Linked DNA regions of Homo sapiens. The protein of the gene in region 1 purifies or fractionates together with the protein of each later gene. This does not show direct contact. Each region holds a gene or a part of one and is shown in the gene's direction. Other genes may lie near its edges. The genes, in order: NR1D2 and SATB2.

The links.
Region 2: the proteins of NR1D2 (region 1) and SATB2 purify together in Homo sapiens (affinity purification with mass spectrometry; 2 studies listed by BioGRID and IntAct, with this or other methods). This does not show direct contact.

What each region holds. Positions count from the first base shown.
Region 1 is NC_000003.12:23,965,714-23,969,534, forward strand, and holds part of NR1D2 (nuclear receptor subfamily 1 group D member 2), read left to right. Parts: intron 1-2,099; coding exon 2,100-2,310; intron 2,311-3,821. UniProt on the Homo sapiens protein: Transcriptional repressor which coordinates circadian rhythm and metabolic pathways in a heme-dependent manner.
Region 2 is NC_000002.12:199,321,799-199,325,619, reverse strand, and holds part of SATB2 (DNA-binding protein SATB2), read left to right. Parts: intron 1-1,661; coding exon 1,662-1,817; intron 1,818-3,821. UniProt on the Homo sapiens protein: Binds to DNA, at nuclear matrix- or scaffold-associated regions. Thought to recognize the sugar-phosphate structure of double-stranded DNA.

The sequences.
Region 1 (3,821 bases):
ATAGGTATTCTGTATCTACAGCATATGAACTCCTGAGTTCTAGTATTGCTTTTAGATGTGGACTTAACAAGTTTCTGCAGTGTTAGACACCTCCTGAAAGCCTAGCCTAGCATTTACTGTATTCGATACAGAATAAGAAGGGCAAATAGAATGTGATTTCGTTTTTCGAGAGACTGTAGAATATTTTGGGGATATATCAGACATTTCTTATGTGCCACCTTAGCTCTTCCTGGTTTCACCTTGCTTCAGGATCCTTGGCTACTTTTCTGTCCCGCTTCTCTTGCAACACTGTATCCTGCTTGGGCTTGGGGTAGTCTCTACTGTATAACTTAACAGATGTGCCTCTCCTGGTCCTTAGTTAGGTGTCTTTCACCTTCTGTCTGCCCCAGGGCATCCCTTTTGCTGCCAAGGTGTGAGATGCCTTGGGACCTAATTAAGGACAACTCTGAGATTGGGGTGGTGAGAGGAAGTTGATGTTTGGTGGGCCAAATCTTTGAACCTTTTATGGATGGAAGAAGTGAGCCAGGGCTATATTTTCACTTCTCCCTGGATTTATTATAACGGAGGGAGTGAGATAACTAAGTAATATAATTGTTAACCGATTTAACTTGGATGTCAATTATAACATGGTGCTTAGAACACTTACTGTGATAGCTTTCTTTGTGGATAGTCTCTTTGGGTGTTGGTTTCTTGAAGCAGTTCAGTTAGACTTCATCTGCTTCCTTTGCCTTGGCTGCATTTGATGTGTTGATGTTTCGAAGTGTTGCTGCATTGGAATTTTGCTCTTTTTACTTAAGGCATAGAGGCCATGTGTTATACTTGGCAGCCTAAAGAGATTCTTTAATGCCTTTGGCCAGGGCCCAGTTTTAAATTTACTGGCACTATTTCTTGCTCTAATTTTATATTGCATTTCAGAATCTTTGTTAATAGAGTGGCAGAGTATCTTTGCCATGAGTGGCTAGAATTTCTTTTGATGTTCTTCTTGGAGTATTTATTGCTTTGGTAGAGAATCTGTCTTAAGAAAGTGGTTTTGGGACCGGGTGCAGTGGCTCATGCTTGTAATCCCAGCACTTTGGGAGGCCGAGGCAGGCCGATCACTTGAGTCCAGGAGTTCGAGACCAGCCTAGGCAACATGGTGAAACCCTGTCTCTACAAAAAATACAAAAATTAGCTGGGTGTGGTGGTATGTATTTGTATTCTCAGCTATTCAGGAGGCTGAGGTGGAAAGGATCACTTGAGCCGGGGAGGTTCAGGTTGCAGTGAGCTGTGATTGCATCTCCGGCCTGGGCAACAGAGCAAGACCCTGTCTCAATAAATAAATAAATAAATAGGCCGGGCGCTGTGGCTCATGCCTGTAATTCTAGCACTTTGGGAAGCCGAGATGGGTGGATCACCTAAGGTCACGAGTTTGAGACCAGCCTGGTCAACATGGTGAAACCCCATCTCTACTAAAAATAAAATCAGCTGGGCGTGGTGGCGTGTGCCTGTAATCCCAGCTAGTTGGGAGGCTGAGGCAGGAGAATCGCTTGAACCCAGGAGGCAGAGGTTGCAGTGAGCTGAGATCGTGCCACTGCACTCCAGCCTGGGTGACAAGAAGAAAACTCCATCTCAAAAAATAAAATCTGGCATGGTGGCTCACACCTGTAATCCCAGCACTTTGGGAGGCTGAAGCGGGTGGATCACCTGAGGTCAGGAGTTTGAGACCAGCCTTGCTAACATGGTGAAACCCTGCTTCTACTAAAAATAGCAAAAATTAGTTGGGCGTGGTGGCGCACACCTGTAATCCCAGCTACTTGGGAGGCCGAGGCAGGAGAAATGCTTGAACCCGGGAGGCGGAGGTTGCAGTGAGCCAAGATCATGCCATTGCACTCCAGCTCGGGCCACAAGAACGAAACTCCATGTCAAAAATAGAATAGAATAGAATATAGAATATAGAATAGAATAGAATAGAGTGGTTTTGAGTAAAAGTATACCCTGTTTTTCTTTTATAACTTTCTTTTATATGTGGGATGATTCATAACTGACTTGATTGAATACTAAGTTATTTTTTTATTATTGCTGTTAGACTTCTCCAAATACATTTCTTTTTCTTTTTCCAGGTTTTAATGGTACGGTTCGCATCATTATTTGATGCAAAGGAACGTACTGTCACCTTTTTAAGTGGAAAGAAATATAGTGTGGATGATTTACACTCAATGGGAGCAGGGGATCTGCTAAACTCTATGTTTGAATTTAGTGAGAAGCTAAATGCCCTCCAACTTAGTGATGAAGAGATGAGTTTGTTTACAGCTGTTGTCCTGGTATCTGCAGGTAAGCAAGCTGGTTCAAAATTGTGCCACACCTAGCATATAGTGACCAACTGGGGAGAAGATGGCAGTTAACAGGGTTCCAGAAAGTTATATAGAGGGAATAAGGCCTTAAGGAAGATGCTAAATTGTATGACCCTGTTATTTTTGTGTAACTAATTTTTTCGTTATAACAATATATGTCAAAGTACTATAGGAATAAAGTAATACTTACATCTAGGCCTTGTGTTTACCACTGTTAGTCTTTAGCTTTTTGTTCATAATTTTTCTATGAGTCTAAATCTTTATTTCATGAATTTGTTAGAACATTATGTATCTCCAGGTAGGTAGTTGTAATATGAATTTCAGTTTCCATTCAAATACAATGTGGGTTACTTGAAAACATTAAAAGTATCAAGAGGTATTAGTGTGGTTTGTTGCAGAGAAATGTGAATTAGTTGTAGGCTTTAGTCCAGTTCTGCCATTGAATTATGTGGGTAACTTGGGTAAGTAACTTTACTCTTTTGGGTCTTGGATTCCTTCCTCATCCTGTCAAAGGAAGGGGTTGTACCATGTGAGCCTAGTGTGGTGTCTGGCATAGAAGAGCTACTCAGTCACTGTTTGAATGAGTGAGCAAGATTTTTGAGTTTCTAATGTTTATTTATATGAGTCATTTATGATGTTTCCCAATGCCCCTGCCATCTTGCATTAATATTACAGTTATTTCTGACAGTACCCATTAAGGCAGAGATTGTTACTCCCAATAACAAATGGAAATTGAGGTACTTTCCTGGGTATGTCTAAGTAAGTGCCAGCTATTTTTAGGCATCATTTTATTGTATAACATTTGGGAATTTTTTAGTATTTGGTTATGACTTTGTTTCCCATTTGCTTCCTACTGTGTAAAGGGCACTGTGCTAGGCATTGTGAGAGTTATAAGTTACGGCCTCTGATTATGTAGCTAAACCATAAATTAGTAGCTCTTGAAAGAGAACAAGTTCTTGGCCAGGCGCCAGGGGTGCACGCCTGTAATCCCAGCACTTTGGGAGGCTGAGGTGGGTGGATCACCTGAGGTCAGGAATTTGAGACCAGCCTGGCCAACATGGTGAAACCCCCTTCTCTACTAAAAATACAAAAATTAGCCGGGCATGGTGGCACGTGCCTGTAGTCCCAGCTACTCAGGAGGCTGAAGCAGGAGAATCGCTTGAACCTGGGAGGCAGAGGTGGCCGTGAGCCGAGATCACACCAGCTTGCATTCCAGCTTGGGTGACAGAGCGAGACTCCGTGTTAAAAAACAAAAACAAAAACAACAAAAAAAAAACAAGTTATTTGTATAATTTTGAGGACCTGTACCTCAGTGGAATAAAGACTTGCCATTTGGTAACATAATTTGGCTACCTTTTCTGACCAGCTCTACCTGGATAACTAAAAATGTGTATATGACGTGGGAGTAGTATGAAAGGAATATGTCAATAAGGGATATCTGTTTTATAGCTAATTTATAATGCCTCTTGCATTTTACCTATCATTTGCAGA
Region 2 (3,821 bases), on another chromosome or scaffold:
CAGACATGCTATGCTAAAACGTTCTCTTAACAGGGAAAGCACTGTGGGTTAACTAGAAATTTTGAGCAGAACAAATAGTTTATTTTAAAAAATTACAGATAATTGAATTTTTAATGGGAAAGTCCCAACATAGCAAGAAAATTCTTACAACAGCACCTGGCATAAATTGGAGATTTTGGAGGCAGTGTGTAGTGCAGTGTCCTGAGCCCATGTTTTTGAGCCTGAAAGACTTGCGTTCAGATCATGGTTCCTTCACTGGCTGCTGGGTGTCCTAGGTTAAGATCCTCTTTTATTTCAGTTTCTTCATCTGTAAGATGAAAATAATAATATCTAACTCATTGGAATCTTAAAAGAATTAAATGTGAAAACAAATGTTAAAATGCTTTCTGGAGTACCTGGCCCATAAAAAGCACGCCATAAATTATAGTAATTATTGCTTTGCGGTAATTAGAAAATAGTATGAGAGAAGGAGGTAGAAGAAAAATGGCAGAAGTTACTGAGCACTGTTAGGAAGCAAAGCCTTTATGGAAACGTAGGGCCTTAAGTTCTGCCGCTAGACACCATTTGTCACAGAGTCCACACTGCCTGTTACATCTTTCTCTGGACCTGCATACTGCTGGATCCAGTAGAGAACAGCTCAGGGCATCCGCACAGGGAAACTTGTGATTTGGAGATAACTCTGTTGGTTTGAGATTCTAGGGTGAATGGGGACAAAGAGAAAAAACCCAGGTTAGGCCAATTCGGCTGGTAGTGCACAAGGATCAAGGATGTCTTTTCCTGAAATCTTGCTGCCAGAGGTTCTAAGAAAATGTCTCAGCCCTCTCTTATTAGACACCAGCAATGCATTCTAGGGCTCACACCAAGTAAATGTTATGACCGTCTTTTGGATTAAGTAGATTCAGACATTTTAGGGTTATCCTAACCCCAAGAAGTACAGACTTCTATATTGTCCTTCATTTGTCTCTGAAGCTGATGGGAAATCATTCAATTAAAACGAGCACTGCAGAATACATAAAACCGCAATATGAGTTTAAGAAAATGAAAACGGCACATCAAAGGCATTGTGAAGCCTAGTTTTATGAAATGAAATTTTGTTTCATTTCCACTGATTTCCTAGGTGAAATTAGGTGACTGTCTGGGTAGCATAATGATGATAATGATGGGAAACCATACATACTCGAATGACATATGTAAAGCTTTAATAAAGAATAAGAGAGACTTGGGAGTGCATTAAATTGAGTAATAATTTATTATTTAGAGACCTCTACCCATTTACTTATTTTTTTTCTGGAAGAATTGGCTCTTATTCCAAGGTGTGCCATTTTTAGAAAGAAAAGGTTAACTGTGTGTGTGTTCTGCATGTTTGTTTTGTAGTTAGATGGTTGCTTATAGTTTGGTGTCTAGGAGAGCCATCCTACCTGTGAACCTTCGTCTGGGATGCTGTGAGAGAACAGGGTTGACAGGATTCTGCATGTCCTATAGGAATGCACTGCAATTATTTCCAATCACAATTAACCTGATTAGAATAATGGACAGGAAGTGTCCCTCTGTAGCTAATGCAGTTTGGCATCAGCTGACTGAAATCCTTTGATAATTTCTGCACAGATGGCTGGGCTGAATGCAGCACTTTTTAAATTATTATTTTCATGGTCTCTTGGTAGGCCAAAACCTCGACACCGACAACAGACCTCCCTATTAAGGTGGACGGCGCCAACATCAACATCACAGCTGCCATTTATGACGAGATCCAACAGGAGATGAAAAGGGCCAAGGTGTCTCAAGCCCTGTTTGCCAAAGTGGCTGCAAATAAAAGTCAGGTGAGTGGTTTTTAAAAAAGCAAAATCGAGGGCTGGAATTAGATCCTTCTCCTTCCTCCACCAATAAAAATACATCTGTTCCTATAATAATAATAACAGTAATAACCCCCAAGAAACCTGTCATGTTCTGCCTTTTACTCTAGTTTGCTTTTATTCCCATTGGAGTTCAAAATAGAGATGAAGCCAAAACTTGACCTTTTTTCTTTTAAAGATTAAAAAAAATTAGCCTCGAATGATTTCTCTCCTTATTCTAAACACTGCAATGTACCCTTTTGTTTCTCTCCCTTTATATATGTGTGTGTGTGTGTGTGTGTGTGTGTGTGTGTATGAACAAAACTTAGAATGTATATAACAGCACCTTTCTGAGACCAAGTTTTAGCCAAGTCTCATCACCTTTCCTGTTCCCACAAGGGGAATGTCCAACTCTGTTATAATAACCACTTTTCCCCAGCCCCAGAGACACCTTTTGATGTCAGGTGTTTCTTTTATGTACAGAATACAGTTGATTTTTTCAGGAGAAAACACACGTGGGGGGAGTGCAGAGTAAGTGCTAAAATCTTTTAACAGAAAAACACAGAAGCTTATCCAGTAAAATTTTTCAGAGTTCTGGGATTGTGGAGAATGTAATGCTCTGGGGAAAAGAGCAGACAGATGCTTAGGTTTTTTATTTCTGAAAGCAGCAACAGTTGATGGGATCTACTATCTGCTTCAATTCTTCATTTAAAGGGACAACTTCTGCCCAAACCTAGAATCCTAGGTTTGAGGTGCATGCTCACTTATGTATACCTAGGGCGAACACCTAATGCAGAGTGGAGGAAATAAAAGTTAGTTAAAGCATAATTTTGAGAGTCCTTTGATTCTGAGCTTGATTTCCTCTGTGTCCTTATATGACAAATGTTTTCATCCCTACATATGTAAATAATCAAATGGTTGATCATCTCCCTAACAAATCTTCTGTTGTGTGCTATAAAGAAAGGAAGTGACTGAGTATTGTATTTCTATTAAGCAAGAAGGTTTTCAATAAAAATTAAATTTTTAAAACTGAAAAACTTCAAACTGTAGTTAAATGTTATATTTAGATTAATTATAGAGTACAGGGTTAGCCTTCTTTACCTGCAGTTTTAACCTGATATAGGTTATTTTTAGATGTTGATAAAAGGAGGGGAGTAGAATATCAAGGAACTTGGAAAGGGATTGAAATGTTTGTTTCCCTTTTCAATTTCAGTGTAGTAAGTTTTCCAGATTACTCTGACTTTCTCTCTTCAATGAAATCAGTGAAATACAGTTTGCTAAGACATAATGTCCAACCATAGTATGAAATACATGAAAAGAAAATACCATAGAGCCTTCTTAAACTGTTAAATGCATAAAATCCCATGTACCACATGGCAAAATATAATGAGAGTTGGAGCTGTTAAACGAATAAAGCTGTTAAATGCATAATGCCACTTGGCAAAACTACTGTGCATTTAATGGTTTTCCACTGTGTAATAAAGGACATATGTGGTAAATGTGCAGTGAGTATAAAAGCTGCACAATTGATTTTGCAAACCTGCCCCTTAGTTGTGACTTGATGTAAATATCAAAGTTTCACACAGTCCTTCTTTTATAAGCAGCTTTCAAGAAAAACTGAAGACCACAGTCTGAGAACTTGATTCCAAAAGCCTGTAATCTTCCTGTTGATTTAGCAGTATGGCTTTTGGAAATAGTGATGCCTCCAGCCTCCTAAAATAATTCAGGTAGCTGATTGAAAGCTGCTTTTGCCAACTGGCAGAAGCTTAGCTCTCCAAATTTTTGATGTCTCCTGAAGAAATCAGTAGCCCTGATTTCGTAGAATTTGGAGAAGAACATAGTTCTGGGAATTAATATGCTGAAGGTAAGATTGAGCTTAAGTGAGGATAAGATGCTTTGAGGTTGTTCCTTTTTCACTGGGACAATGATCTCATTTTCATCTATGAGTGGGGAACCTTATTGTAAATAGCTGACTAGATAGGCAATTCAGGC